Regions from separate parts of the Homo sapiens genome. Here regions 1, 2, 4, 5, 6 and 7 are each reported to be linked to region 3. Evidence: microRNA targets listed by miRTarBase, many of them from high-throughput screens and not tested one by one. Region 3 holds a microRNA gene; each other region holds the end of a gene's coding sequence.

The links. The annotated mature microRNA hsa-miR-193b-3p reads AACUGGCCCUCAAAGUCCCGCU and lies in region 3 at 3,155-3,176, opposite strand. An mRNA with a match to its seed (bases 2 to 7 or 8) in the 3' UTR can be bound and repressed. Matches are read on the target gene's strand: a 7mer-m8 pairs with bases 2 to 8, a 7mer-A1 pairs with bases 2 to 7 and ends in A, and an 8mer does both.
Region 1: the mRNA of BORA is a reported target of hsa-miR-193b-3p. The part of its 3' UTR that is shown has no 7-base or 8-base seed match.
Region 2: miRTarBase lists CEP44 as a target of hsa-miR-193b-3p. Seed matches in the 3' UTR shown: 7mer-A1 at 1,389-1,395.
Region 4: miRTarBase lists DAZAP2 as a target of hsa-miR-193b-3p. The part of its 3' UTR that is shown has no 7-base or 8-base seed match.
Region 5: miRTarBase lists TRMT2A as a target of hsa-miR-193b-3p. Seed matches in the 3' UTR shown: 7mer-m8 at 1,202-1,208.
Region 6: the mRNA of EEFSEC is a reported target of hsa-miR-193b-3p. Seed matches in the 3' UTR shown: 7mer-A1 at 3,558-3,564 and 7mer-m8 at 3,519-3,525.
Region 7: the mRNA of MDH2 is a reported target of hsa-miR-193b-3p. Seed matches in the 3' UTR shown: 7mer-m8 at 3,202-3,208.

What each region holds. Positions count from the first base shown.
Region 1 is chr13:72,754,800-72,759,192 of GRCh38, reverse strand. It overlaps BORA (BORA aurora kinase A activator), which reads right to left. Exons shown (of 12, transcript NM_024808.5): 12 at 2,997-4,042. The coding sequence ends at 3,977. It overlaps DIS3 (DIS3 exosome endoribonuclease and 3''-5'' exoribonuclease), which reads left to right. Exons shown (of 21, transcript NM_014953.5): 21 at 1-4,393. Among named protein-coding and RNA genes, the nearest start is that of DIS3, 25 kb to the left of the region's middle.
Region 2 is chr4:174,316,382-174,320,774 of GRCh38, reverse strand. It overlaps CEP44 (centrosomal protein 44), which reads right to left. Exons shown (of 12, transcript NM_001040157.3): 11 at 4,208-4,245; 12 at 447-3,440. The coding sequence ends at 3,392. Among named protein-coding and RNA genes, the nearest start is that of CEP44, 35 kb to the right of the region's middle.
Region 3 is chr16:14,302,800-14,307,192 of GRCh38, reverse strand. It overlaps MIR193B (microRNA 193b), which reads right to left and starts at 3,226; the gene lies at 3,144-3,226. The region is part of intron 1 of MIR193BHG (MIR193b-365a host gene); the gene reads right to left. RefSeq lists enhancers at 1-37, 38-723 and silencers at 3,086-3,135, 4,089-4,328, 4,234-4,393.
Region 4 is chr12:51,241,915-51,246,239 of GRCh38, reverse strand. DAZAP2 (DAZ associated protein 2) reads right to left here. Exons shown (of 4, transcript NM_014764.4): 4 at 2,307-3,910. The coding sequence ends at 3,782. SMAGP (small cell adhesion glycoprotein) reads left to right here. Exons shown (of 4, transcript NM_001031628.2): 4 at 121-1,682. The coding sequence ends at 299. Among named protein-coding and RNA genes, the nearest start is that of DAZAP2, 5.3 kb to the right of the region's middle.
Region 5 is chr22:20,108,957-20,113,137 of GRCh38, reverse strand. TRMT2A (tRNA methyltransferase 2A) reads left to right here. Exons shown (of 12, transcript NM_022727.6): 10 at 1-20; 11 at 131-227; 12 at 344-1,263. The coding sequence ends at 575. It overlaps DGCR8 (DGCR8 microprocessor complex subunit), which reads right to left. Exons shown (of 14, transcript NM_022720.7): 13 at 4,135-4,181; 14 at 1,266-3,113. The coding sequence ends at 3,030. Among named protein-coding and RNA genes, the nearest start is that of MIR6816, 3.7 kb to the left of the region's middle. RefSeq lists an enhancer at 661-1,160.
Region 6 is chr3:128,407,701-128,412,093 of GRCh38, reverse strand. EEFSEC (eukaryotic elongation factor, selenocysteine-tRNA specific) reads right to left here. Exons shown (of 7, transcript NM_021937.5): 7 at 3,448-4,025. The coding sequence ends at 3,835. Among named protein-coding and RNA genes, the nearest start is that of DNAJB8-AS1, 54 kb to the left of the region's middle. RefSeq lists a cis regulatory region at 307-492 and enhancers at 2,149-2,797, 3,979-4,393.
Region 7 is chr7:76,065,634-76,069,633 of GRCh38, reverse strand. It overlaps MDH2 (malate dehydrogenase 2), which reads right to left. Exons shown (of 9, transcript NM_005918.4): 9 at 2,126-3,355. The coding sequence ends at 3,224. Among named protein-coding and RNA genes, the nearest start is that of MDH2, 20 kb to the right of the region's middle.

The sequences.
Region 1 (4,393 bases), not on the chromosome of region 3:
TGGAAAGATGGTTGTGTTTTTATTGCCAGGTAATAAGTGTGATCATTGTTGAACTTCAGCTCCAGTGTCTCTCCAGAATAAGACATTGGCATTCAAATGTCTATATCTTGTTACTTACAAAATAAAAAACAGATTAATTAGTGGCTTTTAAATTGTAGTTATATCAGTGTATATACACGAGGGGAACTGTATAAAGACATACTAAAGGGAACAGATTAAAATAAGTATTATTAATAAAATTTGGTGTGCCAGACTGACTACTTCCCTTGCTAATCACAGAGATTAGTAATGATTAAATTAATATCTTCAGGAATATTTTGGGATAGGGTTGCCTTAAAACATTTTACTTGGCTTATTCAATTTCTAAAGCACTTACGTTGTGCCAGGTTCCACTCAAGTAAATTATCTCTGCCTTCAAGGAGCTTGCAGTATAGTGAGAAAAGCCTGCCAAGTAAATCAGCAGGTATACTAAATAGGTAGTCATTTAGGCACTCAATAAATGTTGACTAATTTTTCCAGTTTCCTATTACTGAGGAAAACCTCCATACACTGAGGCAGAAACTTGTGTCAGTTGGAGGAAAATAGACTTGAGTAGTCTTTGGTCCAGGTAAAATGGGTCAGTGACACTGAAACAGTAGAGTAGGAGTCAAAAAACCTTTTCTGTGAAGTGCTAGAACATTTTAGACTTTGTTGGCTATGGTCTGTATTGCAACTATAGTACACAACTCTGCCGTTGATAGTGTGTAAGGAGCCATATACAATATGTAAACAAATCAACATGACTGTGTTTCAACAAGGCCTGATTTGTTAAGTTTCATATATAGTCATATGTCACTTAATGACAGGGATATGTTCTGAGACATGTCACTTGGCAATTTCATCATTGTGTGAAAATCATGATGTAGTTACACAAACCTAGATGGTATACCCTATGGTATCCTATATGGGATAGCCTATTGCTCCTAACCTACAAACCTGTATGGCATATTACTGTACTGATTACTGTAGGCGGTTGTAACACAGTGCTAAGTATTTGTGTATCTAAACATATCTAAACATAGAAAAGGTACAGTAAAAATATATATATAGATATATATAAGATATAAAATGGTACACCTATTTAGGACATTTACCATGAACAAGTTGGCAGGACTGGAAGCTGGCTCTGGGTGAGTCAGTAAGTGGTTAGTGAATGTGAAGGCCATGATATTACTGTGCACTACTGTAGACTTTTATAAACACTATATACTTAGGCTACATAAAGTAATTTCACTATGATGTTACCATGGCTGTGTCCCCAGGCAATAGGAATTTTTCAGCTCCATTGTAATCTTACGGGATCATCATCGTATATTTGGCCATTGTTGACCAAAAGTTATGCAGCACATCATTATAATTTTGATGTGTCACAAAACATTACTCATTTGATTTCCCCCACCCCCGCCAACCATTTAAAAAAGTTTGCCGGCTAGGTGCGGTGGCTCATGCCTGTAATCCTAGCATTTTGGGAGGACGAGGCGGGTGGATCACTCGATGTCAGGAGTTTGAGACCAGCCTGGCCAACATGGTAAAACGCCGTCTCTACTAAAAATACAAAAACTTAGCTGGGTGTAACGGCGGATGCCTGTAATCCCAGCTACTTGGGAGGCTGAGGCAGGAGAATCGCTTGAACCTGGGAGGCGGAAGTTGCAGTGAGCCGAGATTGCACCACTGCAGTTCAGCCTGGATGATGAGAGTGAGACTCCATCGCAAAAAAAAAAAAAAAAAAAGAAAAGAAAATTAGCCAGGTGTGGTGGCAAGTGCCTTTAATCCCACCTCAGGAGGCTGAGGCAGGAGAATCGCTTGAACCTGGGAGGCAGAGGTTGCAGTGAGCCAAGATCGCGCCACTGCACTCCAGCCTGGGTGACAGAACAAGACTGTCTCAAAAAAAAAAAAAGAGAAGAAAAACTGCCTACAGGCCATAGTTAACCTGCAATAGAGAAGAAAGGGAAGTAGGGCAGTGCATGACTGGCCTTAGGTTTTTTCTTTCCAAGTTTATTTTCTTGTGCTTCAGCTACTAGAAAGGTTTAATTCAGGGATAAGTCCCAATTGAGTAGTTCAAGATGATCAGAGACTTTGCTATTTTCCCCTAAGTTCTATTCCATAATCTAAAATGTTCTGTTTCTAGTGCCAGTTCTTATGCTAAGCAGGTTACGTGGAATATATCACTTAACTCAAAAAGCCCTGTTAAGCCAGGACTGTTATCTCCATTTAACAGATGAGAAAATGGAGGTTTATGGTCTGTTCTCACACTGCTACGAAGAAATACCCCAAACTGGGTAATTATTATAAAGGAAAGAGGTTTAATGGACTCAGTTCCGCATTGCTGGTGAGGCCTCAGGACACTTACACAATCATGGCAGAAAAAGGAGAAGCAGGCACCTTTTTCACAGGGCGGCAGGATGAAAATGACTGCCAGCAGTGGAAATGCCAGACGCTTATAAAACCTTCAGATCTCATGAGACCGGCTCACTATCACAGGAACAGCATGGAGGAAACCGCCCCCATGATCCAGTTACCTCCACCTGGTCCCACCCTTGACACGTGGGGATTGCTACAATTCAAGGTTAGATTTGGGTGAGGACACAGAGCCATACCATATCAGCCCAGATCAAGTAGTGACAGAGTAGGGATTTGAATACAGGTTATAGTCACTATTGTGTTATTTCTTGACTTTTGTACTATTAAAAAACTGTAGCCAGTGAGGCTTCTACCCTTAGTACCCAGAACTCCTTTTAGGTATAGCAATTGTTTTTAGGTAAATTTATATTGAGTTTAACACCTGTGTGATTAAAGACAACTTTCCAATGTAGTATCTGTAGCCATGTCCCCTAATGGCTATTAGTGTTCATGGTTAGTGTGTTGAAGATGAGCCAGGTACATAACGCGGCACATTTTCTGCAGGTCAGCAGTAAGGTTTCAAGGTACAGTTATGGAGGAAAGAAGAAAATGACACATTGATAACACAGGTCTTTATTCCCTTTTGAATGAGACAGTTTTTAAAAGTTGATTTATAAATACAAAAATACATTCTCCAAAGATAGTATTTCCAAACTGTTATATACCCATCTACTCCCAACATGGATATAAGTTTTTTAAAAAAATAGTTGTATATAACATACATATCTGCCCCAGTGTTACTTCACAGGCCTATGCCCTACGGGAACTCCACTCTCCCAGCCCCACTTTTTCTCTTGGTTCTCCCACATTCTTATTCTCCCACATCCCTACCCACGTTTGAGCTGGAAAGGATGTCCCTACCCTAGGCATGAGGTATATTTTATTCTGGGCACCACACATTTGCCCCATAGATAACAATACACGTGATGATGTCACTAGTACTACCTTTCTAGTATTTACATACTTAAAAGTAGTAACTAGAACAGTTATCACTGGAACTAAGAATTTTCCCCACAGAGGTGAACAGACCAAGAACTAAAATTTCAGGAAACCTGTTTAATTTCTTTTGTATCTTTGAAAAGTTAGTTTTATATCTAAGATTTCTTCACATAGGTTATAATTCATCTGTATGTTCAAGCTTTTATGTAAAAATATATAGTGCCTTCAGTTTTAACATAGTTTCACATGTTCTCAGAACTGCTAAATTCAGTGCTACCAGTAAGGCTTAATAAGTAGTTCATTGACCCTGTAAGATAGGAGCACTCAGCTCTGTCACAATTTGTTGTTAAACACATCACTCAATGTAAGTATAAAAATATTTATTGATAAAAAATAAACTTATAATTCAGCAACTTGAAGTTCCAGGAGCATTTCTGTTGTTCCTATGTCAGTAAGCCCTTGATTTTTCACATTAAGGAGGGAAAGCTAAGCATGTTACTTGAAGTAATTTTTTCCCAGTCACCATCATGTTGATCCTGTGCACAACGATATATGCGAGGAACTCTTAAGCTTAGTCTTTGATTCTGACAGAGGCATTCTATGGACTGCTGCATTGAAAAGGGCTTGCTGTTTTCATCCAACACCTCTGTGTTGTGTGGTCTTGCTGTGAAAAAGAAGACAATACCTTGTTTTCAGTTTAAGTAGGACCACTGGAGGATGCAATTATCGGGACTGTTTTTAAAACCTAAAAGCACGTTTCTTTAGCTGAACTCTGAAGGGACAGTAAAGATACAGTATTTTATAAATCAATATTCTGCATCAAAAAGCATCCCAACACTTTGAGAGGCCAAGGTGGGAGGATCGCACGAGCCCAGGAGTTTGGGACTAGCCCTGGCAACATAGTGAGACCCTGTCTCTACCAAAAATTTTAAAAAGCTGGGTGTGGTGGCACATGCCTGTAGCCCTAGCTACTCAGGAGGCTGAGGTGGTAAGACTGCTTGAGTCTGGGAGGTGA
Region 2 (4,393 bases), not on the chromosome of region 3:
GGTTCAGTAAATAAGATACAAGCTGCCCCTTGGGCCTGTGTCAACTGACCTCTAGCCACACACACACACATACACACACACACACACACAGAGCACACTCAGTATGCTAGCCCTAGTGAATTTCTTTCAAATGCTCTTCCTTTCAAGCCTTTGTTTATGCTAGTCCTTTTGCGTAAACCATCTTCCCTGGCTATATTCTGTTCACTCTTTAGGACTTAAGATAAACATCACTTCCTTCCACGCTGATCAGTTTGATGCCTTCAGTTTCAAAGAAAGGAGACAAACCTGGGGACTGTTAAAAAGTAAAAATCAAAGTTACAATGTTATTTGAGCTCAAAAAGTGTTGTAGTTTATAAAATTGAGAAGGTTATATTAATTTTTATGCTTCCTGAAGAGTGTATCAATTATATAAAGTTATGAGTAATGAATGGCATGAAACAAAGTCCCAACGTTTTCAAGTTTTATTTTTAAAATATATTACAACATCACATTAAAAACAGTAGAGGAAAACAAGCAAACATGATAGAATTACTTTTTTCCAACTCAATAGTACTTAGCTTTACCTAGAATTTTCATACAGTTGATGCTAACTTCTTCTGAACCCTTTCTGACTAGTATTTTACCTTATGTATTCTTTATAGTATTTCCATATAATCTTTACCGAGACCTATTCAGAGCATAACATAGACAGGGCAGCACAAGCAACTGACACCTTTGTTGGTAGTACAGTGTTTTTTCAACCAGTTTATGAGAGAATGAAAAGAATGAAAGTGAAAATTTTACTTAACTTAGGGTTATGTAGCTCTAGGTAATCTCTTCAGAACTCCCCTGCTTCACCTTCTCAAGTTAATCAACAGTGGCTAGTTTATAACTAGAAACCACTTACCAAATTGCCTAAACAAGAAAACTTTTTAAAATAACAATTTGCTGATCTGTCCAATAACTCCAATAAAGTTGAATTTGCTTTATTTTTCCAAAAATTATGTTGTCTAGATAAAGACTCTTTGTAAGTGTAAATGTATGATATATTGAGTTGATTTTTAGTCCCTATTAGAGAGTTGTTAGACAAGTTATTAAAGTTTAAGAAAATTTGGATTCTAAATTTCCACCTGATAACATATATGAAATATTTTATATTTTCAATATATACTTACTTATATTTTGCACACTGTATATAAACTAGGAGATTAGAAATGTTTTAAGTCCCTTCTCTGTGTGTATATCTGCACTATATAAAGAAAAAAAGAAAGGGTAGAAAGAGACTTAACTTTTTTTCTATCTTCCATAAGAAAACTTCAAAAATGTTTCTTTTTAAAATTGAATTTTTCAAAAGGGAAAAAATATTATCCTGTTTGATGGGAAATCACTTGTTTTAACAAAAGGTAAAATACTGGCATGTTAACCACAAGGTGGTGCTATAATTCCATGCTGGTACTGATATTTTAGGAGTTAATCGATACAGAAGTTTTTTCCCTTATAACTATAACCTCTTAACCTCTTAATTTTTATAAATGTACTTCTCTCACAATTGAAAAAATTAAAGCTAACATGCTTCATTAATTCTGGAAATATTTACTGAAACTCTGTTAAATTCAAAATTGTATGTTTCTGTAGGCTACCATTTTAAAGTTCTGATGACCAACTGTTTATTAGAATACTAAAAATGTGGCCAAGCATGGTGACTCACCCATGGAATCTAGCACTTTGGGACATCCAGGTGGGCGAGTAGCTTTAGCTCACGAGTTTGAGAACAGACTGGGCAACATGGTGAAACCCTGTCTCTACAAAAATACAAAAATTAGCCAGGCATGACGGTACAGGCCTATAGTCCCAGCTACTCAGGAGGCTGAAGCACAAGAATCGCTTGAACTCGGTAGGCAGAAGGTGCAGTGAGCCGAGATCACGCCAGTGCACTCCAGCCTGGGCAATAGAGTGAGACCCTGTTTCAAAAAGAAAAAAAAAAAAAACAAAGGAATTCTAAAAATGTTTTCTTAAAAGTGATTTCTTACACTGTTTCAAATTCACAAACACAAAAAAAATTTAAGTGATTTCTACTCATATAACAATATTTTATATTTGACAGTGTAATATAGAATTATACATACATACCATAAATAGATGAATAAATAAAATATAATCAGATGGTCCATATAATATTAAAAAAAATACTAATTTTCCTTCCAAATAATGAAGTCAATTTTCTTGAGGATTTTCTGATTACTGGAACACTTTTATCTACAAGTTTAAAAAAAGATAATTCATATAGTAGTAATATTAAAAATAAATTTCATTTTTCCATTGATTTACCTTCAGCTAAGACTTTTCTCTCCAAAAAATGTGTAACTTTTCATCATTAAAAAAACAAAACACAACACCTCACTGTGTATCTTTTAACGGTGGCTAGAATGGCTACATTCTCTTTCTGTTACACTGGTCTTAAAAAGTGTTACGCCGGAGGCCAAGACAGGCAGATCACCTGAGGTCAGGAGTTTGAGACCAGCCTGACCAACACGGAGAAACCCTGTCTCTAATAAAAATACAAAATTAGCTGGGCATGGTGGTGCATGCCTATAATCCCAGCTACTCAGGAGGCTGAGGCACAAGAATCACTTGAACCCGGTAGGCAGAGGTTGCGGTGAGCCAAGATCGTGCTATTGCACTCCAGCCTGGGCAACAACAGCGAAACTCCATCCCCCCCTCCAAAAAAATTATACAATAGAGCATACTAAAATGTTCAACACATTTCTCATGGTGAACCTTGAGACCATAGTCCTCTTGGTCTAAACTTGAGGACCATAGTCCTCCAGCCTGTTTCCCAGTACAAAAGGAGAATCTTAACCTTAATTTCTCAGTGTTAATTGGAAAGGTATTGATGTTTTTGACCAAGCATGAAATAACTGCCTTTTTGTTTTATTTAATTTTCAATGAGCATTTTTAACTGTTCATTATAACTTATTCATCAGTACAGATGCCAAGATGGTATATATGAGAGCCTCCTGGGTATAATACACAAGTCCCATTTGGAATGTTTCCAACAGGATGTAAACCATAGTCCTCAAGCCTGTGCTTTAAAAAACATTACTTAGCACACTGCCAACAAATGTCAACACAGAAATACAGTGCTGTAATGACTTCACTCTGTAAGAGAAATATACTGGAACATGAGTTTTTCCTAAAAAAAAAAAAAGTGACACAAGGTAAAGCAGTATAATCATTGCTCAAAAATATTAAAAGAGTTATTCAATAATGAATGCAAAAATTCATATACCAAATGGAATCCAAATTGTCAAAAACTGCAGTATTGCAGTATATTAAAATTGTATAAAGAATTCTTAAAATATACAATATGTATAGTAACCAAAGTCCTAGAAAAAAGTTCATGTAGAAAATCCTACAAGTAGTGATTTGGACATTTCAGTAACTCTGCAGTTTCTTCAAACCTGAAATATAATAAATAATATATTAAGTAAATCAATAATTCATAATAAAGCATAGCATTTTAGTTGTTGAAATTATGCTTTTTAGCCTAAAATAAATTTGAATATTTTTCTTATCTATAAGTACAGTTACTATGAATAAACTTAAGTATGACCAGAGGGAAGACAAAGAGGAGTCGATTATGAGTCATATTCTTGAAGTGTAAGTTAAGTACTTTTTGCATTTCTAAATAATATTATAATTTTCTATAGTAGTAGGCTGCATAATCATCTTATATGCAATTTCATTTCATATTTCCTTTGAACTGCTCTTTAGAAAAATCACACCATTTGTACTAGACAAAAACATCATTTTTAGTATCTCATCAATAACTTGCCGAAAAACACCAGTGATATTTTCACAACACTGAAAATGTCTCCAAACCATCCATCTATATATATTATTTAATATTTTGATAAATCAGTTATCAAAAATAGATAATACTCTTGATTAGTTACCAACCAAAAATATCTTTGTATTCTCTCTGCAGTTAATTCCATTAACAATTCCAACAAGTTTTAAATCGCTTGTTGGAAACTAAAACAGTGACTCATCTCACAAACACATAACTGTAGGTGGATTTATTATCCAGTGGAGTCCTGAAGGAAATTCCACACCTGATTGAGAGACCTTTAAGGTTTGAAACACACATGCACATTCTATATATACTGTAATCCAATACAATTCCCTATAGAGAAATGAATTTCTGTTGCCCCTTTCTGTTACTTACATTTTTTTCATCCTTTCCATTTTCTGGATTGTTGTTTCCTTTAATTTAAAAAGCAACAAATTTAGATGATTTCTCAAAGTAAACCATCATCAAAGATGGACCGAGAATGTACAAAACACAGTTTGAAACATTGCATTAAGTACTGTTTACTTATGAAAGAATTTTGAGAGACTAAGATTCGCGTTT
Region 3 (4,393 bases):
TTCTGGCTGAACTGCTGCAGGCTTCGTCTCGGGAGGAAAGACCCCCAGGCACCTGTCTGGACTTGTCTGGGCACCAGTAGTGGCTCTGAGGCCACATCTGGGCCTCGGCTGGCAGAGGTCTGGGCTGTCTTGGGCACAAATGCCAATGCCAACAGGCCCAGCACTGATCTCACACGATTCCAGCAAGAGAGCCTAGATTTTTGCACATCTCTGAGAAAACTGTCATACCACACCGCACAGCTAACCTTAGGCGCAACCAGCCACTAACTCCTCTCCCTGCCCAGGCGAAGTCCCCTTTGCTGCAGTGGGGCAGCATTTCAGGGACACGGAGAAAGAAGTTTGCTTTGTGGTTCCGTAAACTCAGACGGATGATATAAAATCAGAAACCTTATTTTAAAGCTTGGTAAATATGTGCATATGTCCCCTACAACTGGGGACGCTGGAAAGGCAGCATCTGAACACTGGCTGCTTTGAAAAGAGGTCATGAGAAGGGCAGAAGGGGTCAGCTGGGCATGGGGTGATGGAGGGAACCCCAAGTCCACTCCTAAATTCTTTCAACGTCCATCTCTTTCCCTGAAAAGTCGGCTTGGCTACTAGGCCTGAAAAGTATGTTGTTTATATCATGTTTGTGAGCGTCAGGGTTTATTTTCACCTGCTCCAGATACAAGAAGCAAAAAGAACTCTACATTTTTCTGTGTTTGGGGTGCTCAGGCGAGAAAGAAAATGCCTGCTTAAAGTAACTGATCAGCAATGTTTTGTTTGTACACGCACTTTATTCTGGTGAGTGATTTTAAGTACCAAGTTTGCCTTAACTTTTCACTGCACTCATTTTTATCCTCATGGCTAAAATAGCTGTATTTGCTCCACAATCAAAATTAAAGGAGGGTGAGCTGATCGTTAGGAGGCTATAGTTGATCTGGCAAGAATTTCCATCTTTCTGTTCATAACGTTAAGTTGGGGGGTTGCTGGGAAGGGAAACAGAGAGAGTGTTCCCTTGGAGGGACTTTTCCAACTTTCATTGGTTTGAATCACCAACATATATTTTATTTTTAAGGAAGTATCATATTCATTGCAGAACCACCTCTAAATATTTTACTCCTGGCCATACCGTATTCTTTTCTATTGAAACATCTTTTTTGCCTCTCTGAGATCAGCTATGGCTTGGGGATTGCTAAGAACAAAATTCAAAGTTGCTTGTTTTTTGTTTTTTTTTTTCTTAAATCCACACTTCTTTGGGGGTTAGCGGGGGTGGGGAGGGAACAGCAACTGCTTAATGAAGTTTCTCACACAGAGGCAAAAAGAGAAAAGCCAAAATATATTCAGTGTATCCAGCAGTTCCATGCTGAATTTTTTTTTTCCTTATTGGTTGAGGGGGGTGTGTAGGAGGGTGGTGGGAAGGATCTGAAAAGAAGCTGTGATTCTTTGCTGAATTAATGATGACTTCTCACTGCAAAATGCTGATTTATAATCTCTTCACCATACTAGACTGTTTCCAGACTCAGAGGGGGGTTAAAGTTTGTTAAATGTATTCATAATTACATGCACAGTTTCAGACGGCTGAATATAAGTAATGCTTGTGCTGTTGCGAATGCTCACCATTAAAGCAGAAATTGTTTCACATTTAGCACTAAATTCTGTCTGATTTTGCACACTTAACAATTCAGTAATTTTAACATTCGGCTTCGTCGCCTCCATTATAGCTCAGTATCTTGGAGAAACAGTCAGTGTTCCGGCCTCGTTAATTCATGTAAAACACCCTATTTGTAGAAGTATCATTAAAGGCTAATTTGATGAGATATCCTTATTTAGCAAAGCAAATAGGATTTGACAGTCAGCTCCGGGTGGCGATTTAGCAAAGCACAAACACAATTCACAACGTGACAATTTCCCATCCACGCGCCTCGCTGGAATTGTGGACTCCTGAAAATTGTGCTGTTTCATCGTGTCCCATACTAAAGAGAAAGAACTCTGGAAGTAAAGAACTGTTTTTGCCAAGGCAGCACAAATGTCATCTGTGTGTACATGTGCCATGTCTTTCAAATCCTAAATCTTGTATCAAGAACGCTGTGTTCAAAGGTTTTTTCCAGGTACAGCTCACTTTTCTATTCCCTGCTATGTAGACTTAATTTAAATCTAGACTTGCAAATAACTTAGGATGTGTGAAAGTCTATATAGGTTACAACTATATAGGGTGTGTGTGTGTGTGTGTGTACACACAACTGAAGGTTAATGTTCTGCGACGGGGATTTATACACACTACCCTTGCTTTAGAGACTTCCCCTGAACGTATTATCCAGCCTTCTATAAAACGCCTGGCTGGGTGCAGTGGCTCATGCCTGTAATCCCAGCACTTTGGGAGGCTGAGGTGGGCGGATCACGAGGTCAGGAGATCGAGACCATCCTGGCTAACACGGTGAAACCCCGTCTCTACTAAAAATACAAAAAAATTAGCCGGGCGTGGTGGCGGGCGCCTGTAATCCCAGCTACTCGGGAGGCTGAGGCAGGAGAATCGCCTGAACCCGGGAAGCAGAGGTTGCAGTGAGCCAAGATCGCGCCACTGCACTCCAGCCTGGTCAGAGCCTGGACAGAGCGAGATTCTGTCCCCAAAAAACAAACAAACAAACAAACAAAACAAAACAGAACAAAAAGAACGCCTTCAACAGCAAAGAGTTGCAAAGAAATGTTGCAATTCCAGGTGGAAGCAAACAGCTGGTTTCTCCTAATTTAGCAAACGTAAAGACAAATCTAATGTCGTTACAATTCATCATTTCAGGAGCGCCTTATTTGGGGGCTTCAAACACTTTGCCACAATTGACATCCTACTAATTCCTTTCCAATCCAATACTGTCCCTTAAACCACTGTGGGGGTGGTCAGGGGGAATGTACTTTCTCCTCCTTGTATCGTTTTTCGGCCTCCCAAGGAGAGAAGCCCTTGGAAAACACAGTAGGTTCGGCAAACTGAGAACACACACTTATAAGAATACCGCCCTCGAAGGGACCTTTTAGTTTTATGGAAAGTAGCAAACCTCCCCCTCTTTCCCCGCCCCCCCGCCAGCCGGGTTTTGGACGCGCTCCCTGGGGGTGGTAGCTCTCTGCCCTCACCCTCCCGAGACTGCCGGGGCCTGAGTCCCTCGCTGTCCAGAATGACCCCAAAAGCGGGACTTTGAGGGCCAGTTGGATAAAACATAAACTCATCTCGCCCTCAAAACCCCGATTCTGAGACCACAGCCTCCAAAAGCCTCTTTTCCCAAGAAGTGAGTCCCCATTCACGGCTGACAGCACCGGGGCAGGCCGCCTTTGAGGCAAGAGTTTGGAGAACCGGGATCACTGAAGGAATCGTTACTGGGTGTTCCCTCAGGGCGGCGGTTCATCTCACCAAAATGCCAGGGGGTCGCTGTGGGAGGAGGGGACATTTGCCACACCATGGCTGAGGGCAAGAGGATCGCTTGATCCCGGGGTGTCTCTTCCCTCCCGGAGCAATCACCAATCTCGCCCAGCAAACAGGCCTAAAAGCTTCCCGGACAACACGAGGGGTGCCCCAAACGTCCCTTAGCAGCGGATAAATCGGGTGTCCGAGGTGCCTCGTACAGTTCCCCCCACCCCATCTCCAGCTAAATAAAGTTTGGTTATTTGTGTCCTTAATCGTCTCTCATTAAAGTCAAATTTGCTGCGCGCCCAAGTTGGGGGAAATGATTTCCATTTTAATAGCTTAATTAGCCTCTAGGTTCTGGAAAGGCCACTCCCCCACGCACCTTTTCTCCTCATTTTAACCCCCCTCCCTTTTTCACAACTTCTCCTAAAAATAAATTATAAATATGGATGTGTCCTCAGAGGACATAAGCGGCGCATTCCAACGCTCCGCTTGGTGGGGATTGGAAGCAAAGAGAAACCAGAAACGCCACTCCCCCCACCCCCAAATCAAAATGCCTTTTTCTTTTTTTTTCTAACTTCTTTTTCCTAACTTGGTGTTGTCTCGGGCACAGACACCCCGCTCCGCACCCCGGAACCTAGTTTTTTTGCCCCCGTCCTGCAGAAGCTAAAGCCAACGCGCCAGGGCTGCCTGCTTCTCGGGGGGAGGGAGCTGACAACTTTAGGGGGCGGCGGTAACTCTCTGGGGACGGTGGTTCCCGGCTAGTCCGGGATCCCCGGGGCCCGGCCCCCGCAGGCGCCGCCGCCCATGCCAGCGGGGCTCGGGCGCACGTGGAGCGGCGGGCGCGGCCGGCCTGCTCCGCGCGCGGCATTGAGATCGGGGTCACGCAGCGAGTCAGTTTCCCGAGCGGGCTTTCCGGGGTGGGGGCGGGGACGCGGACGCTCCACCGCCTCGTCAATTTCCAAGCCCAGGCACTAGGGAGGCTGGGGGCGGCCTCGCCCCCTTCCTACCTCCCGGCTTCAC
Region 4 (4,325 bases), not on the chromosome of region 3:
CACTAGTTAATGAAAACAAGAGGATCTTTACGAAAACAGTGACTAAATCAGATGACTCCAGGAACTACTGAGACATCCTCAATCCTGAAACATCTCTACATTTTCCCTCTCCTTTCCAAGTTGTTATCACCGTTGTCTTCCTCACCCTGCTCTCGGTCGTGATCTTGATCTTCTTTTACCTGTACAAGAACAAAGGCAGCTACGTCACCTATGAACCTACAGAAGGTGAGCCCAGTGCCATCGTCCAGATGGAGAGTGACTTGGCCAAGGGCAGCGAGAAAGAGGAATATTTCATCTAATGACTCCCAGGCCCCAAGGAGCTTATTCCTGGCTCCATCGCTAACACGTTGACTGCTTATTATGGGAAAGTTTTCTCTGAAGCCAGGGAGAAGCATTGATTGATGTGGGCAAATCCAAGCTCCAGCCAGGTCGCAGTCCCAAATGCCGACATCACTGACTCCAGGGACCAGGGACATGGAGAAAGCTGTTTATGATATCTTTAACCAGGCCCTCTTACTAGAGCTGGTGTTTGTGACTGGCCAACAAGATGTGGCTATGCCAGGGGACATCTGAGTATGTGCCCAGTCATCTTTTTTCACAGGTTGAAGGGAGAGAAAAGATTTTGAGTTAAGGTCATTGGCTGCTCTACTCTGTCCCCTACCTGGTCACCTAGTGATAGCCCCAGTGGAGATACTGTCCATACAAGGTCTTCCCAGAGGCTGGATACCACAGTAAAAGGCCAGGCCAGGAGGGGTAGGAGACTATGGAGATCTTACCTCCTGATAAATGTGCTACACCCCCTAATCTGAGCCCTTCCTTTCCGTGTTCCCCAACAACCTCATGCTTACGTGATTTTTATTCAAATTAAAAATTTTCATTGCTACAGAAATCAGATTCTCATGTGCAAGAAGTAACTACATTTTGACTTATTTTTGCTTAAACATTTTTGACATTTTCTTTTCCCTATTTAACGCCTTTACATATGTTCTCTTCCAAGCAATAAGAACCCTAGGAAAGTTCTAGAAGTTTGCAGAACTATCTCAGGGATTTGAGACAAAGATGGTGCAGGAAAGCTTGTTCCAGGGGAACATCATTAGAAACATACCCTGGGAGGGCCGGGTTCGGTGGCTCACGCCTGTGATCCCAGCACTTTGGGAGGCCGAGGCAGGCGGATCACAAGGTTAGGAGATCGAGACCATCCTGGCTAACACGGTGAAACCCCGTCTCTACTAAAAATATATAAAAAAAATAGCTGGGCGTGGTGGCGGGCGCCCATAGTCCCAGCTGCTTGGGAGGCTGAGGCAGGAGAATGGCTTGAACCCAGGAGGCGGAGCTTGCAGTGAGCTGAGATTGCACCACTATACTCCAGCCTGGGCAACAGAGTGAGACTCCGTCTCAAAAAAAAAAAAAAAAAAAAAAGTACCCTGGGAGATGAGTTGGTTCAAGCCTCCATCCTGGCAAGGGCCAGAATTTCCCAGAATCCCTTCTACATATATACAGAAGGAACCAGAAAAAATCAACCTACCACCTTTCCCAGTGTATCCTCAGAATCAAGCCAAGAAGCTTCTTGGATTTTAGTCTCAAGATAAGTTGTGTTTAAAAGGCACATTTTGGTATAAATTATTAGCTCATCAGATATTGTTCACTTTGGAATTAAAGCTAGATCTCCTTTGAAGTCTTAATGTATTGCCTCTGTTGTCCAAGCTCAAACCCAACCAAGTTAAGATCAAGAGCTGAGGAATCTGGCTGGGTGCAGTGACTCACTGCCTGTTATCCCAATACTTTGGGAGGCTGAGGCAGACAGATCACTTGAGGTCAGGAGTTTGAGACCAGCGTGGCCAACGCAGTGAAGCCGTCTCTACTAAAAGTACAGAAATGAACCAGGTGTTGTAGCAGGTGCCTGTAATCCCAGCTACTCAGGAGGCTGAGACAGGAGAATCACTTGAACCCGGGAGGTGGAGGTTGCAGTGAGCAGACACTGCCACTGCACTCCAGCCCGGGTGACAGAGGGAGACCCTGTCTCAAAAAATAAATAAAAGAGCTGAGGAATCTATCTTGGCAACCTAGATTCTATGAGTTTTCAGTATTTCTCCACATAGAACATTGGAGAAACTAAAGGTCATCCTCAACGTATACAAATTGCTATACCAGAACCTTTTCTTCAAGCCAAACTTTAGAGCAAGTTAGGAGAATCAATAGTTCCCTCATTTCTAAGTTTAGGTCCGAAATTCCAAAATTTGTAAGAGGTTGGAGTAAAATGATGAAAAGTTGAACATCTGGAATGGAATTCATGAAATGATCAAGTCTTAGGCTTGTACTCCTGCCTTTATTTCAAAGCGTCATCAAAGGAAACAGAGCAGCAGCAGCACCTAGCTGAATTCTAGATGGGATATAAATAAAATATATATAGAAGAAATCTAAAAACAAGCTAAGTAAAGAATCCTTGCAGTGAGGTGTAATGCAACTTCATCACTTTATTCAAATCTTCAAAATAGTCTTTATTCTACATTTTTAGTATAAAAATTCCACAAGTTAAGTGCACCACAGTGTAGAGAGAGACATACAACGCTGAACTTCCATAACAGTCAATGGTACAGTCAAACATCACATGTACAGAACACACAATTTAGATGAACTGAAATTATAAGATAAAATAAAATAAAATCCAATTTCAGAAAACAAAAATCAAAACATTAAGGATCCCTGAAATATTCTTAAACCCTAATGAGATTTCACTGGACTCAAGTCATTTTGTAGTGAGACATTCACAATATGACCCTATTAACCCAGTCTAGGAATTCTGGGGAGCCGAATGAGTGGCCGCATCAGACACTCTGACAAAAAATGGTAACCAGTTTTTGATCTGAAAACTCCTCTTAATTTAGCTCTGAACACATCAATCAAGCTTTTGAAATGCATCCTCCTCCTTGCCCCTCATATTTTAAACCAACTGTTGTTCACAGTACAGTTTGCACGACATCTTTGTTCAAACATAGCTCAGTTTTTCTGGCACCAAAGCAAATTTGGGTTAGGTTCGTGTATGCAGAGACAACCTATGAGGAGGGCCCATAAGGCACCCTCCACTTTTGCCTGAGGAGATACGAAAGCAGAAGTAATGGCATCTGTACTTGGGGCACAGAGAGGGTTTCAGAGGATCCTTGTGAAACACTAGTTAAAAGATGACGAGTGGGGAGAAGTGCGAGGAAAGAAGGAAATTAGTCTGACTGGCTTTCTGTCCTGCACCATTGATTCAATGGAGACTGGCGGGAGGAAATGGAAGACTAGGGTTGGAGATGGGATGGGTGGGGCAAGGGATGGAAAGGAAAAGGCAGACAACTAATGCGTTCCATTTATAACAAGTAATATATATCAAAGACTTAAAGGAGATTAAAGACCAATCAGAATAATTTGGCAACTTTAATTCTTAGGAAGATCAAAGTTCCCTCCAAACCTAATTTGATGTTTTATTACTAAAAGCAAAGACCAGTATGGTACAGTATTACTCCAGAGAAATTAAAGGAAAATCCTTAGGGCGGCTTCACCCACATTCATTTTATGAATGGATACCTCCCCTACCTCAAAATGCTTTAGGGAGGTACTGCTACCATTACATGGTTCCTTATTAAATTTGAAAAGTGCCTGAAAGTTTGGGCACCAGAAAGACACCCCAACAACATGTGTCTAAACTGCAACTTCAGGTTAATATGACTAAAGCAGTTACATTGTGAGAAGTGCTGAAGGTATGTGATGTCTTTCCCGGCACAGAGGTGGCCTTGGTTCCTCACCAGATGGTGTAGCCACCATCTGAACCACCCATGAAGAAGTTCCCCTTCCGCTGAGTTACGAGGACGTTGGCTCCCTGCATGACTGCAAGCTGAGCAGCATTGGGAGGGCATCCAGGAGGTGGAGGCTGAAAGGAAATGACATGATAGAATGGGCACAGGGCAGCTAATATAAGCGAAGGGGACATAGGGGAAGCAGAGGCCTGTTAGGATGAGGCAATGTGCTAACCAGCTGCGTTTTAAGGAGCTAGTTCCGCCACCAATTTGAGTTCTAAAGTAGGTCTATACTTTATGTGAACCCAAAGATACAAACAGGAAAGGGAGCCTACCACTCATTCAAAGGGTTCCAGCTCTAAGATGAAGCCTATGGCTACCTTCTGAACATGAACAGACCAGACCAACAGTCATTTTGAGGGTAGAGAACCACTGTCCTACTCACATTCCCAAAACAGGGACAGGGTGCCAGTCCATGTATGAATCCCACATGGTCCCTACATAGTTTTTAATTTTTAATTTTTTTTTTTTTTAATTTTTTTGAGATAG
Region 5 (4,181 bases), not on the chromosome of region 3:
CCCACCCCGTGCTGGCTTGCGTGAGTGGCTTTTGCTTAAGGAGGTGGCACGGGAACGAGGACACATGGGGTGGCTCACCATGTTATGCACTCTCTGGCTGTGGGGACCCAGCTGGTGTTTGCCTCCTCAGATTCCAAGGTGATCCTGGCCATCCGGAGAGCTAAGAACCTCAGGCGGCTGCTGTACGTCTCATGCAACCCCCGGGCAGCCATGGGCAACTTTGTGGAGTGAGTGTCTGCAGGGGCCTGGGTGGGGGCTAGGCCTGCTACCAAGCCCCCAGCTCCCACAGGAGCCCCTGATTAGCCTATCGGCTGACCTTAGCGCCCCCCTTTTCCCCCCACAGCCTCTGCAGAGCCCCATCTAACCGGGTGAAGGGCATTCCCTTCCGGCCGGTCAAGGCTGTGGCAGTGGACCTGTTCCCGCAGACCCCGCACTGTGAGATGCTCATCCTGTTTGAGAGGGTGGAGCACCCCAATGGCACAGGGGTCTTGGGGCCCCACAGCCCTCCAGCTCAACCCACACCAGGACCCCCAGATAACACCCTACAAGAAACTGGGACCTTCCCCTCATCCTAGGCCCAGGACCCATTATGGGGACAGGAGCTGAAGGGCTCCCAGGGCCCCAGGGGCGGGGAAGGCATGGCTTGCTGGCCAGGATATTCAGAGGTAGGCAGCCAAAGGGCACAGAACCCTGTGCCCCACCAGGATTGGCCTGCTGCTAGGGGCCAGGGGCCCTGACCAGGAAGACAGGTGGGTTCCTGTAGCCTGTTGCCCATCCCCAGGGCCTTTGTGGACTAGCCAAGGCTGTGAGGGCCAGAATAAACAACTGCTCAACAAAGGGTGTTTCTGTGATGAGAGCCAGGGGTCTGAACACAGGGCCTGGGTGCCAGGGAAAGGGCCAAACTAGGCCTAGGCAGCTCTGCAAGCCTCTCTGCATGGCTGGGGGAGTCAGGGCAGAGCTTACTTTAAAAAAGAATGTTCGATTTGATACTTAAACTTGAGGAGAGGCAGAGAGAGGTCTGGGAACTGCACCAGCTGGGGGCATGGGGTGGAGAACACTGGGCAGAGTTGGCCCCTCTGTGGCCAGCCTGGCCCTCAGCCCAGCAGAGAGGGCATCAACCAAGGAAGGGGCCATGCTGGGGTGCTGCTCAGCTGTTACAAAGGCAGGGTCCAGCCTGCAGGGAGGCCCCAGGAGGGGATCTGGCCAGTCAAGGGTCCACAGGGTGCCAGCCTCTCACCCTCAGAATAAAGACATCAGCCATTCCCTTCTGGACAGTTTGCTTTATGTGTTCAGACAATCAAGGCTCGCCTTCCAGGCACAGCCCAGTGCCCTGGATGGCATCAGCACAGGCTCCCCTGCCCCGGCCTTGAAGCATGGCTGTGTGCACGATTCATACCCATGCTTGGCAGACGGGTGGGGGGGGGGGGGGGGCGCACAGAGACCACAAGAGTATGGCAGCACCTGCTGTGGTGGTGCCTGGGAACAGCAAGACACAGCGAGGCTCCCCAACCTTTAGGGGAACACATGTGCACGAAGCTTTGGTTCACAGGCGCATCTGGCTGGCTAAGGGCAACAGTCACAGTCAAATGACTATTCACAGCTGCAGACAGGAGGCAAGACAGAAGCAAGTGTCTAATTATAGCAATTTGAGTTGAGGGTTTCTTTTTTAAAGGTCAACAGAAGCCAACCTTGGTCACACAGGTAGTGAGGGAAGGATATGTTGTGGGCGGCCCACAGGCCAACATTGTTTTCCTGACAGAAAAAAAAAAAAAAGCGCCATCAGTACCGCCTGTAGGGGGCATGGTGGGGGACAGACACGGCAGAACGCTGGACTCTTGCTTCAGATGGCGCACCACAAGCACACGGCACTCTGCACAGGTGCCAGTCCACCACCAGGGCCAGCCTTTGAGCACACCCTGGTGCCTCAGACTCCGGCAGGAACACATTTCCATCGCACACCCACCCATAGGGGCCACCAGTCGAGAAGCAAGCTGGGCACCAGGCAGCTGCCTTTGACATCCAGAGAAACCGCTGTCACAGGCAACAGCTCTGGATCAAGAATGGGCTACACTGAAGGCCCTTGCTTCCTGTTTCAACAAGTCCACTTGCTAAAATGCATGATTCCAAATCTACCTTCTACTCTCACTGTGAAAGTCTTTCAAAATGCTAAAATATCACAAAAGCTTTAAAAATCAATGGGTGGACATATGGACTCGACTGCAAAAAATCTTTGTAAAAAACTGTTGCCGGAGGCCAGGAAAGGCAGAGAGGGCCTCAGTGTCCAAAGAGGCGCTTTTAGGGAATTAAGACTTCATCAGAAAAAGGGACCCTAGGAGGCCAGGGTAACTCCAGGAGGTGGCAGGACGTCATCCTTGCTGGCATCGTGTCCAGACTGGAGAGGGACCACCTTGATGGTTTGCCTCCAATCCCAGAAAGCTAGTTCTGATGCTAAAATTCTGTTTAAGCCAAAAAGGTTTAAAATATTCCTTTCTCTTCTACCTTTTCAAAGAAGGGGAAACACAGAGGGTGGGTGAGGGCAGGGCACCATGTGCACCTCCTGACCAGGTCCCTGTAGCAGCCCTGCAGGCGCCCTGGGCACATGGGCCACCTGGCATCACGGGCCAGCCACAGGACTCAGCCATCCCCTCTCATCTGTCATCCAAGCATCATGTGTCGTCAGTGCGTATTACATACTAAAATTCATGAAAGCCTTCATAAAAAGAGCCTGCAGCAGGTGCACAGAAGCAGGGTCCACCACTGTCCACAGTCACCAGCTGCCACTGGTGCAGTCGCTGAGTCCATCCATTCAGGCCTGGAGCTTTCCAGGGAGAGCCGCTGCTCCACATGTGTGCTGTGTGGCCATGGCTGTCCCTGTACACTAAAGCCTCCACCCTAAGGCCGGGCCCACAGGTTGGCCACAGGGAAGGAGCGTGGGTTGGAGGCCTGACACTGTGGTGCACGATGCATGACTGCTGGTCTCCTCAGAAGTGCGGCTGGCGGCCCCCGCGCCCTGGCCCGTGCCACCTCCCTCACACGTCCACGGTGCACAGGGGCTCACCGCCAGGCTGGGCGGACGCCACAATGGACATCTTGGGCTTCTTTCGAGTCTCCTCCTGAAAGAACAACAAAGGTCAGGGGTACCAGTGAGGTGGGCTTGGCAGAGGCTCGGGAAGACACAAGGTGGAGGGAGAGCCCAGCAGATCATGCCAGGAGGCCCTGGAGCCCCAACGGCACCAGTGCTTGTGATGCCAGGCTAGGAGGAGCAGGGAAGGCCTGGGGCAGGCCAGCCTGAGATTGCAGAGGCCCCCTGCATTGCCATCAGAGTACAACATGTGCAGCCTCCCTGGCAATCAGGACATGTACCAAGAAGTGAAGAATTTTGGGTGCAGTTACAGGGACAGGCCAGGCCTCCCCATTGGGTGTTCCTCCCTTGCCCAGCTTTTGCTTGCCCCAGGCCCAGCCAGGAGCACTATGTCCTGCACCTGCTGCCCTTGAGCCCCACAGCCCCTCTTCCGACCAGGGGCAAACCAGGCAGTCCCACTGGCTCCAGGAGGCCAAGCCCCACCCCAGGGAGCAGCAAGGGACCTGCTGGCCTGGGCGGCAGCAGATACCTCCTGGGGCTCTCACCCAGGCCAGGGGACTGCCACACTTAAGAAAGCTCCCACCCAGAAGGCCCAGGTGGGCAGGTCACGCCGTGGCCAGGCAGACGATGCCTGAAGACAGAAGACACCACTGCCAGCCTGACAGGCCCCTCTTTGAGTGGGGTTCCCAAGGTGGCTTTAGGAGGCTTCATCAGGACCAAGCCCTACAGATTCAACCCTGGCAGGTGCACTGACCTACCTCCAAACACCCAGGGAGGACATGGGACTCAGGTGGCCCACCAAGACTGTGACCTTCATGGTCCACCAACAGGCTGGCCTGCCAGCTCTCTAACAACAGAACCAAAACTGAAGTGATTTATAAAACTATCACACATGTCGAAGCTCAAAGAAAAGCCTGTATCTGATTTTGGAAGGAGGATCCAAGCATTTCCAAGGTGTCAGCTCAGGCACGGGTCCTGGGGTCTGCTGTCCCTCCACAGGTGCCACAGGAATGGCCGTGGCCCGGCAGCCCTCCCGCTAGGGTGGCACTCACCCTTTCCTCAGCTAGCCTCTTCATCTCCTCTTGGAGCTTGCTGAGGA
Region 6 (4,393 bases), not on the chromosome of region 3:
GAACTTGCCACCACCCTGTGTACACTGGACTCGATCCTCCTTCACCCCACTCCCACACCCAAAGAGATACACACACTGACAAACACCGCAACCCTCCCAAAACACACACGGAGCACATGCAGACACGTCTGAGACATCGCGGATCCATGTGCACAGATGCACACCCAGACGTCAGCACAGGCTTGGAGATGCCTGGTGCACCAAAGCCCGTGTGCGCACATGCACATGCATGGCCAGGGCAGGAGGCCTGGGAGCACGGAAGCTGCCCCTTCTCCTGCCCCAGGCCCCCAGGGCTTCCCGTTTACGAGACGTTATCTATTGAAAATATATTAACCCAGAAGCCTGTTTCCATCAGAGTCTCGATTCCAGGGACATTTCCAGATAAGCCTTATCTCTTCGTTTGTGCATTAGCCCTGCTGGTCGGGGGCCTGCCAATCACCGCTGCCCCTCCTGCCCCAGCCCATGGCAGGATGTCGGTCCATGACCTCACTCCATGTGGGCAGGCAGGTGAGGGGGCCCAGGGCACTGCTGCCCCATGCCCCACCCCACCCATCAGCCCACAGAGGACCCCAGAGGGCACCTCTTTTCCAAGGACACGCCTGAAGCACTGGTGGGCAAGGGACTCTGGAAGAACCTGGAGCCTGGACTCAAACTCCAGCTCTATCTGGGGCAGCTGCAGGCAGCCAAGCCCTGCCCTGCCCACACCCCTGGGAAACCGGCATGCTGCTGCCACATCACTGCTGTGGGTAGATGAGCAGATTCGGTGAGTTTACCTGTGTCGGTGGCTGCAGTGAGCTTGGCCCACTGGAACCCTCTCCTACATAAAACACGCGGGCCTGGGGTTGCCCAAGGCATCCTGGGGGACGGGGGAGCCAGGGAAGGGGACGTGCATGCCCACACCTTGGCCTCAGCCAGAAGCGGGTGCTGGCACCAGCTCCTGCCCACCGTCCCGGCTAGGCTGCACCTTCAAAGGCTGCGCGCCCTGGCCCGACCCCACTAATGGACGCTCGGGTTTCCACCGATGCCGGGCCTGATAGAGGCCTCTCCTGGGGCAGTCGGCTGGGCGTTTTCAGGCCACACAGAGCAGGTCCGCCTCATTACACACTCAGGGCGCTCAGAGGCTCCTGGGAGTCGCCCTGGGCTGCCCCTCCTCCCTTCTGTGCCTCTGTGCCTCAGTTCCTCCACCCGAGCCCCCTCCTTCCCGGGACTTTGAGGAGCACGGTCTTCAGACCAGTAGGGAGGTGAGAGGTGGGGTGGAGGTGGACGCCTGCACAGAGTTCCTGGAAAAACGGCTTATTTGGGGCTGGTGTCACTTCCTGAGGGGTTCTGGGCCTTTTGCCTCTCAGTGGGAGATGTGTGGGGCCCACCCTAGGGCCGCAGGTAATGTGGGGTCAGCAGTGTGCCTGGCAAGTCTCCCACCCCCAGGGCAGCCCTCTGGCATGGCTGCTTTTCTTCTTCCATTTTATACATGGGGACACTGAGGCATGAGGTTAGGGAACTTGCCCAAGCTCACACCGCAGGCAGGGAGAGGCCTGAATCTGTGCCCTGGTGGCGGCAGCCACATTCGCCCTGTGTGCTCATCTTTCCTCCACACCTGATCTGGCCCCAGAGCCAGCTCCCATGGCTCCCATGGAAGCTCCCATGGACAGCTTCCATGGAACCCCATGCTTGGCACAGTGGTTCCACTGGGTCACATCACCCCTCATTTAGAAAGGGACAGTGACACACCCAAGGTCACCCTGCCCATGCAGGCCAGGACCTGGGGCTGAGCTCAGAGCTTTCTGTCCCAATGTGCAGGGACTCTGAGGGGGCTGGGGAGGGAGCGGTCAGGGAGGGTGTGGCCTGGCTCCCAGCTCAGCCCCACACTGAGGAGGAGGGAGGTTTCCTCGCCTAAGAAGTGAGTCCTTGGAGCTGGGTTCGGACCCAGTGCTGGCCCTCACCAGCAGCTCCCAGATCTGTGCTGGGAGGTGACCAGCCTGGACAGCACTGGCAAGTGCTCAGAGGGGCCTCTCCTGCCCCCAGGGACTGACAGGCTGGGGGCTGTGAGCCCAGCTCGGTGCTGACTGAAGCCCTCCTGGAGGTCTGCTCCCTTCTTGGGCTGCCCTCCCCTGGGGGACCAGCAGGCTAGCAGGGAGCCTGGTGTGGGCTCAAAGCTGCTGCCAGTTTCCTGGGCGGAGTGGCCTCAGTGAAGTGGCACTGCCTTCCTGGTGAAACAGTCTGCAGGGCCAGGTAGGGTGAGGAGGCCGTGGGGCACAGCACACAGTGGGGTCGGGGCACAGCACACAGTGGGGTCAGGCCCCAGGGAGAGGGGCCACTGCAGTCCCAGGAAGTGTCTGCTCAGGCAGCGGCAGTAGAGGGGGAGTCGGCTCCTAGGCAGAGGGCTGTCCTGATTCACAGTGCAGACAAGCCGCCCTGGCACCCGCAGCCTGCAGCAGCCGCGGAGGCCACGCTCACCGGGGCCACACTCTCTCTCACGTTCCTCCAGGGCCAATCCCCTCAGGGGACTGAACTGGGAACCCCACTTCCCCATGGCTCTCAGCTGTTGCCCTTGACTGCTGCTCCAGCCCTGCTGCCTGGGTCTGGGCCAAGGTTGACGAAGGGTGGCTGGGCCAGTCGCCATCGCTGGTATCCTTGCAGCTCGGGGGCTTTGCTCTGCTGTTGGTGTATTTAATTAACTGCCTGTTCCCCACCCACCACGTGCACACGGGACACACACACACACACACACACACGGCTCTGGGGCTTAACAGGCCCAAGTCATTTGATCGAAACCTGCCCCTGTTAATATTTTTAATGCCATTTGCAAATTAAAGCATAATGCACCGATTACTGGGATAAAAGGGAGGCCTCTGCGTCTGTCTGGAGACCAAATAAAGGAACGTTTGAACATCTGTTCATCCTGCAAATGTCTCTAAAAGCTTTGATTTCCCCTCAGTCTGTTGACTCCACCATTCACCCCTTCCTGAGTATCCCACAGCCTGGGGCTACAAGGCAGGGTGGTCTGTGGGTGCAGGGGATGGCAGATGGCTCTGCAGGGTGCCCTCACCATGCTAGCCTCCACTTTCTGGGAAGTATGTGGTTCTCAAACTTGAGGGCAGGGGCTGAGGGACTCCTCGTGTTGGGGTGGAGGAACAAGCCTCCACCTGCTCTGCCTGATGCTCTGGCCAGGCACCCTGCTATTCCCCAACTTCCCTGTGGGTACCTTCCCTGGACCCAGCTGCCCAGAGAATCCCCATTCTCCCTGAAGGCCCAGAGCGCCCCAGGAGCCACCTAGTGGGGTTGAGAAGCGCAGACACTCTGCAGACTCCCACAGCCTACAGACTCTGAGTTTGGGTCCCTTCCCTGGCCCCGACCTGGGCAGGAACTCTTGGGATTTCTGAGATTCCCCTTGGAACACAGCTGGGGAGGGCGGCGGACCTAGTGAAGTCACAGAGAGAGAGACACCAGTAGAGTGGGCTGGGGCCACGGGACATTTATTTGTAGCCATCAAGTGCCTGCCCACCTGGGGGAGGGTTGAGACTGGCCTGCAGGTGGCCAACAGATGGGGCAGTGGAAGATACTGGCTACCAGCCCTCTGCCCATGGCCCTTTCCTAGTTGGGCTGGGGGCTGTCCTGGGTGGGAGTGTGCAGGGGCTGGAGGAGAGACCCTCCTGGCCCCAGCAACCCATCCCCCTCAGCTCCTCACCAGGGCTCAGCACCAAGCTTGGGGGTGGGGGCTGCTGCTGCAGGACTGCAGGGAGAGACTGGGAGAGGCTGAGGCGTGGCTGGTTGGGATTTGGCACAGCAGCCTGGACTGGGCTGGGCAAGGAGGCCCTGGGGGAGGTCACCGGACACTCAGGGAGACTGAACCATGCGCTTGTGGGTGTCGAAGACATAACGCTTGAAAGTCAGGCTGAGCACCACATGCTGTGAGGGCTCGCTCCGCTCGGCGCTCTCCTCCTGCCTGGTGGCCTCCCCACGGCCAGCCCGGGCCCGCTTCTTGAGGGCGGGTGTCAGGATCTTCTTGGACTCGGGGCTGAGGCCACCTGCAAGGCACAGAAGAGAGCCTGTCACTCTGCCGTACCCCAAGCACCCGTGGGCTCCCTGCCCGCGCACCTGCTGCCTAGACTCACCCCTCTTCTGCCTCCCTCCCTAGCCAATCAGCCCTGAGGCCTGTGGTCCATTCTGACATTTTGGTCCCTCCGGCACCCATCTGATAGGTGTACAGCAGGGCACTGTGCCTCTTGGGGCCTCAGCTCACCACCCCCGTGCTCAGGCCCTGGAGGGACTGCTGCTCTGTGCCGAGTGGTCCATTGCTTTCCAGTGCACTCATGCCAAGTCCACGTCTGGAAACTCGGCATCTGAGGCTCCCTGGGTGGGGTACTCCCTGATTGCCTCTGGAGACCCATTCTCC
Region 7 (4,000 bases), not on the chromosome of region 3:
GACCCCCCTGCCAACCCGTCCTTGGTGGAGTGTGAGCAGCCTTGGCCACCGTGTCACCATCCTGCTCAGCTCCTGGGACGCCCTGTTCCTGCCATCCACAAGCTCTTCAGCCTGTCTGCTCCGGCAGCTGCCTATGACGCCCATCCCACCCTCCCTGCTGGTTGAAATCCTGCCCAGCCTGCAGAGCCAGAGCGTATGCCATCTCCTCCTCCTCCTTTTCCCTCCTCCTAGAGATCTTGATAGGGGAAGTCCTCCTTGATGCTCTGCCAAGACATGAAGTAACCTTGCCCTCCTCTGGAGTCCCACGGTACTTCCTCTGTGTTTGTCTTGTGGATTCTCAGTACCTGACTCGTCTTTAGCCCTGGAAGGCAGGAGCTAGAGGGTGAATAGCCCAGGGACGGCCAGTATCTCCAGGCCCCTTCATCATCATCTGAAAGAATCTAGGATATTCTACATTCCAGGTCCTCCCTTTAGGATGCTAGAGCTGAATTTCTGAGATGGAACCAGAAATGCGCTTTTTTTTTTTTTTTTTTTTTTTTTTGGGACAGGTCTCTCTCTGTCTCCCAGGCTGGAGTGTAGTGGCACAGTCACAGCTCACAGCAACCTCAAGCTCCTGGGCTCAAGCAGTCCTCCCACCTTAGTGGGAGTATCCTGAGTGAACTCTCTGGGAGGTTCTTAAGGGGTAGCCCCTGGTTTATGGAGAGAGGTAGTGACCACCCTCAACCAAGACACAACCTGACTTAGCTTGAGTCCCAGGTCCTGTCAGGGTTGTTGCAAGGATCCCATAAAATGGCAAATGTACCCCAAATACAGCCAGCATAGTGCTCTGCATATAGAACCACCAGGAGGAAACAATGCTAAAGTACCACGCTCAGAGTTCTGCTCTCTACAGCAGTGAAAAACAAAAACACCGAATTATCCACCCTCAAGGTTATCCAGCTGTGAAAAGAATGGCAGGGCACAGTGGCTCATGCGTGTAATCCCAACACTTTGGGAGGCCGAGGTGGGAGGATTGATTGAGGCCAGGAGGACCAGCCTGGGCAACAGAGCAAGTCCTCCCACCCTGATATCTTGTTTTTTTTTTTTTTTTTGAGACGGAGTCTGGCTCTGTCGCCCAGGCTGGAGTGCAGTGGTGCAATCTTGGCTCACTGCAAGCTTCGCCCCCCAGGTTCATGCCATTCTCCTGCCTCAGCCTCCTGAGGAGGTGGGACTATAGGCACCCGCCACCACGCCCAGCTAATTTTTTGTATTTTTAGTAGAGAAGGGGTTTCACCGTGTTAGCCAGGATGGTCTCGATCTCCTGACCTCGTGATCTGCCTGCCTCGGCCTCCCAAAGTGCTGGGATTACAGGCGTGAGCCACCGCGCCCGGTCACCCCCACCCCGGTCTCTACAAAAAATTATAAAATTAGCCGGGCGTGGTGGCAGGCACCCATAGTCCCAGCTACTGGGGAGGCTGAGGTGGGAGGATCGCTTGAGCCCAGGGGTTGGAGGCTGCAGTGAGCCATGATCACACCACTGCACTCCAGCCTGTGCGACAGAGACCCTGTCTCTAAAGAAAAATTTAGAAAAGTGACAAGGGCAAATACACACAGTGAAAGAAGTGGGGGGCAGCTCATCTCCATAAATGGCCATCAGAGTCAGGTCTCCCGCAGCCACACCCTTGTGTGGTTCCTGCCCATGTCATTGGGGGCCTTGTAACTTACTCTAACCTAGAGAATGCAGCGCAAGCGAAGCTGGGCCAGTTCTCAGCCCAAGCCTTAGAGCCTGGCAGCTTCTGCTTTTGCTTGTGGGAACTGAGTCATTCAACAAACATATGGACCTTGCTGTAGATGCGTTGTGAAGAATGAGAGGCCCAAGACCTCGGGGAAAAGGCCAGCTGTCCGGGCATCTCCCAAACACCAGCCTCGCGTGCTCCAGTCCAGCCAAGCCTCCAGTGACTGCAGTGGGAGCTGTGGGCATGTAACCACCCAGCTGAGTCCTGTCAACCCCCAGCGTCGGGAGATAGGAACAGAAATAGCCTAAAAGCCACCAGAGTGGAGAGGGCTGGGATTGTTACAGTAGCAGATAACCTGCAGAGCAGGCTTCATTCTCTCAACCTATGAAATATGCAAGAGAGGACAAGTATTACCAGTAGTTCCTTTCCCGCTTTATTTTTTAGCTGCTTTTTGGGTTTTATACAATGAACATGTATTAATTGTAGAAGAAAACGATGTCATCCTTTATGATAAAATCCATTTCCATTTTAGCTTTTTTAAAAAAACAAAAAGCTGTTGTGGACAGATGAACATCCAAGTACTGGGCACACCTCCAGCCCTCCCTCTTCCACTGAAGGCCATTGCCTATTCCTAGAAAGTTCTTTCCCAGGTATGCAGCTTTCAGTTTCCACTTCAGAGGCCACAGTGTCTGGGGAACGGACTGCCCCCAATACTAAAGGGAGTCAAATCTCTTTAATTCCGCACTCCTCAGTACAACAAGAAGTCCCTTCTTTAGGCCACTGATGGAAACCTGGAACCCCCTTTTGATGGCAGCATGGCGTCCTAGGCCTTGACACAGCGGCTGGGGTTTGGGCTGTCCCAAACCGCACACCCCAACCCTGGTCTACCCACAGTTCTGGCTATGGGCTGTCTCTGCCACTGAACATCAGGGTTCGGTCAGAAGATGAAATCCCAAGGGGGACAGAGGTCAGTAGAGGAAGCTCAATGAGAAAGGTGCTGTTTGCTCAGCCAGAAAACAGCTGCCTGGCATTCGCCGCTGAACTATGAACCCGTGGGGGTGAACTACCCCCAGGAGGAATCAGGCCTGGGCGATGCAAGGGTGCCAACAGGAGGGGCGGGAGGAGCATGTACGGGTAAACTGAATACTGTGTCCAATTCCATAAATTAACAATTTAGACTTTCTTGAAGCTACTGATGAAAGCGTCACGCTTCAGTCTAACAGTTAAACATCATCTAATTCTGATTGGTAATGAAGAGGTAGCAGACACTCTAAAGTTGGCTCTCACAGGGAAGAAAGCACAGCATTTACAGAAGGGACCTTGAAAAATAAAATCAAGGACGGCTTTTATTGATGCGCCCACAGAGCCACCCACAATTTGGAAGGCATGATGATGTCAATACAGTAATCATCACCAAAGCAAATTAAAATACAAAGTTTATCTGCAACGGCTTTGCAGTGACATGATGCCTTCATAAATTAAGGAAACTGGCCACCCGTCACAGCGGCTCACTTCAGGGTCTTCACGAAATCTTCCCCCTTCTTGATGGAGGCCTTCAGCTCGGGGATGGCATCCGAGATCATCTTCTCCTCAAAAGAGGAGACTTTGCCGATGCCCAGGTTCTTCTCGATGCCCTTTTTCTGAGGGAGATGGGAACATGTTAAAATGAAGTTTCCAGGAAAGTGCTTGTTAGAGAAACCCCGACCTGTCGCTCCATCAGCCCTGCCGAGGAGTCTCTCTACACATGCGGGTTCTGGGTGCCTTGCTGGGGACGCCTTGCTGAGCAGGTGGGTGGGACTGAGCTGCGGTCAGGAGTGCGAGGCTCAGAGCCAGAGGGTGCCAGGCAGGGGTCCCAGCACTGTGATTGTCTAGGCAGGTACCCTGGACAATGACTGACCTTCCAAATGTGTTTCCTTAGCTATAAAACAAGCACCATCCACCTTCGTGAACACGAGGACAATGCGACAAGCACCTGGACGCCAGGAACTCAATCATCAGGAACACTTCACCGTATTCTCCCCAACAGAGCCTGTTTCTGGGTTCTTGTCTCTCCCCGCAGGTTGGTAAAGGACTGAAAACATTGTCACAGTCACCTGAATCAGGTGTCACTAAGTAGGTAAATGTCTGACATTGGCAAAAACAGGCATCTCTGCCACCGTCTCACCTGCAGAAACTGAGCACAGTTTGTGTGGCAACAGCCTCAGTCCTCACCTCAACTCAATTCCCTCCTACTGCTTCCCCTGGCTCAAGGGCCTATGAGAACCGGGTGCGTCTCACCTGCAGGC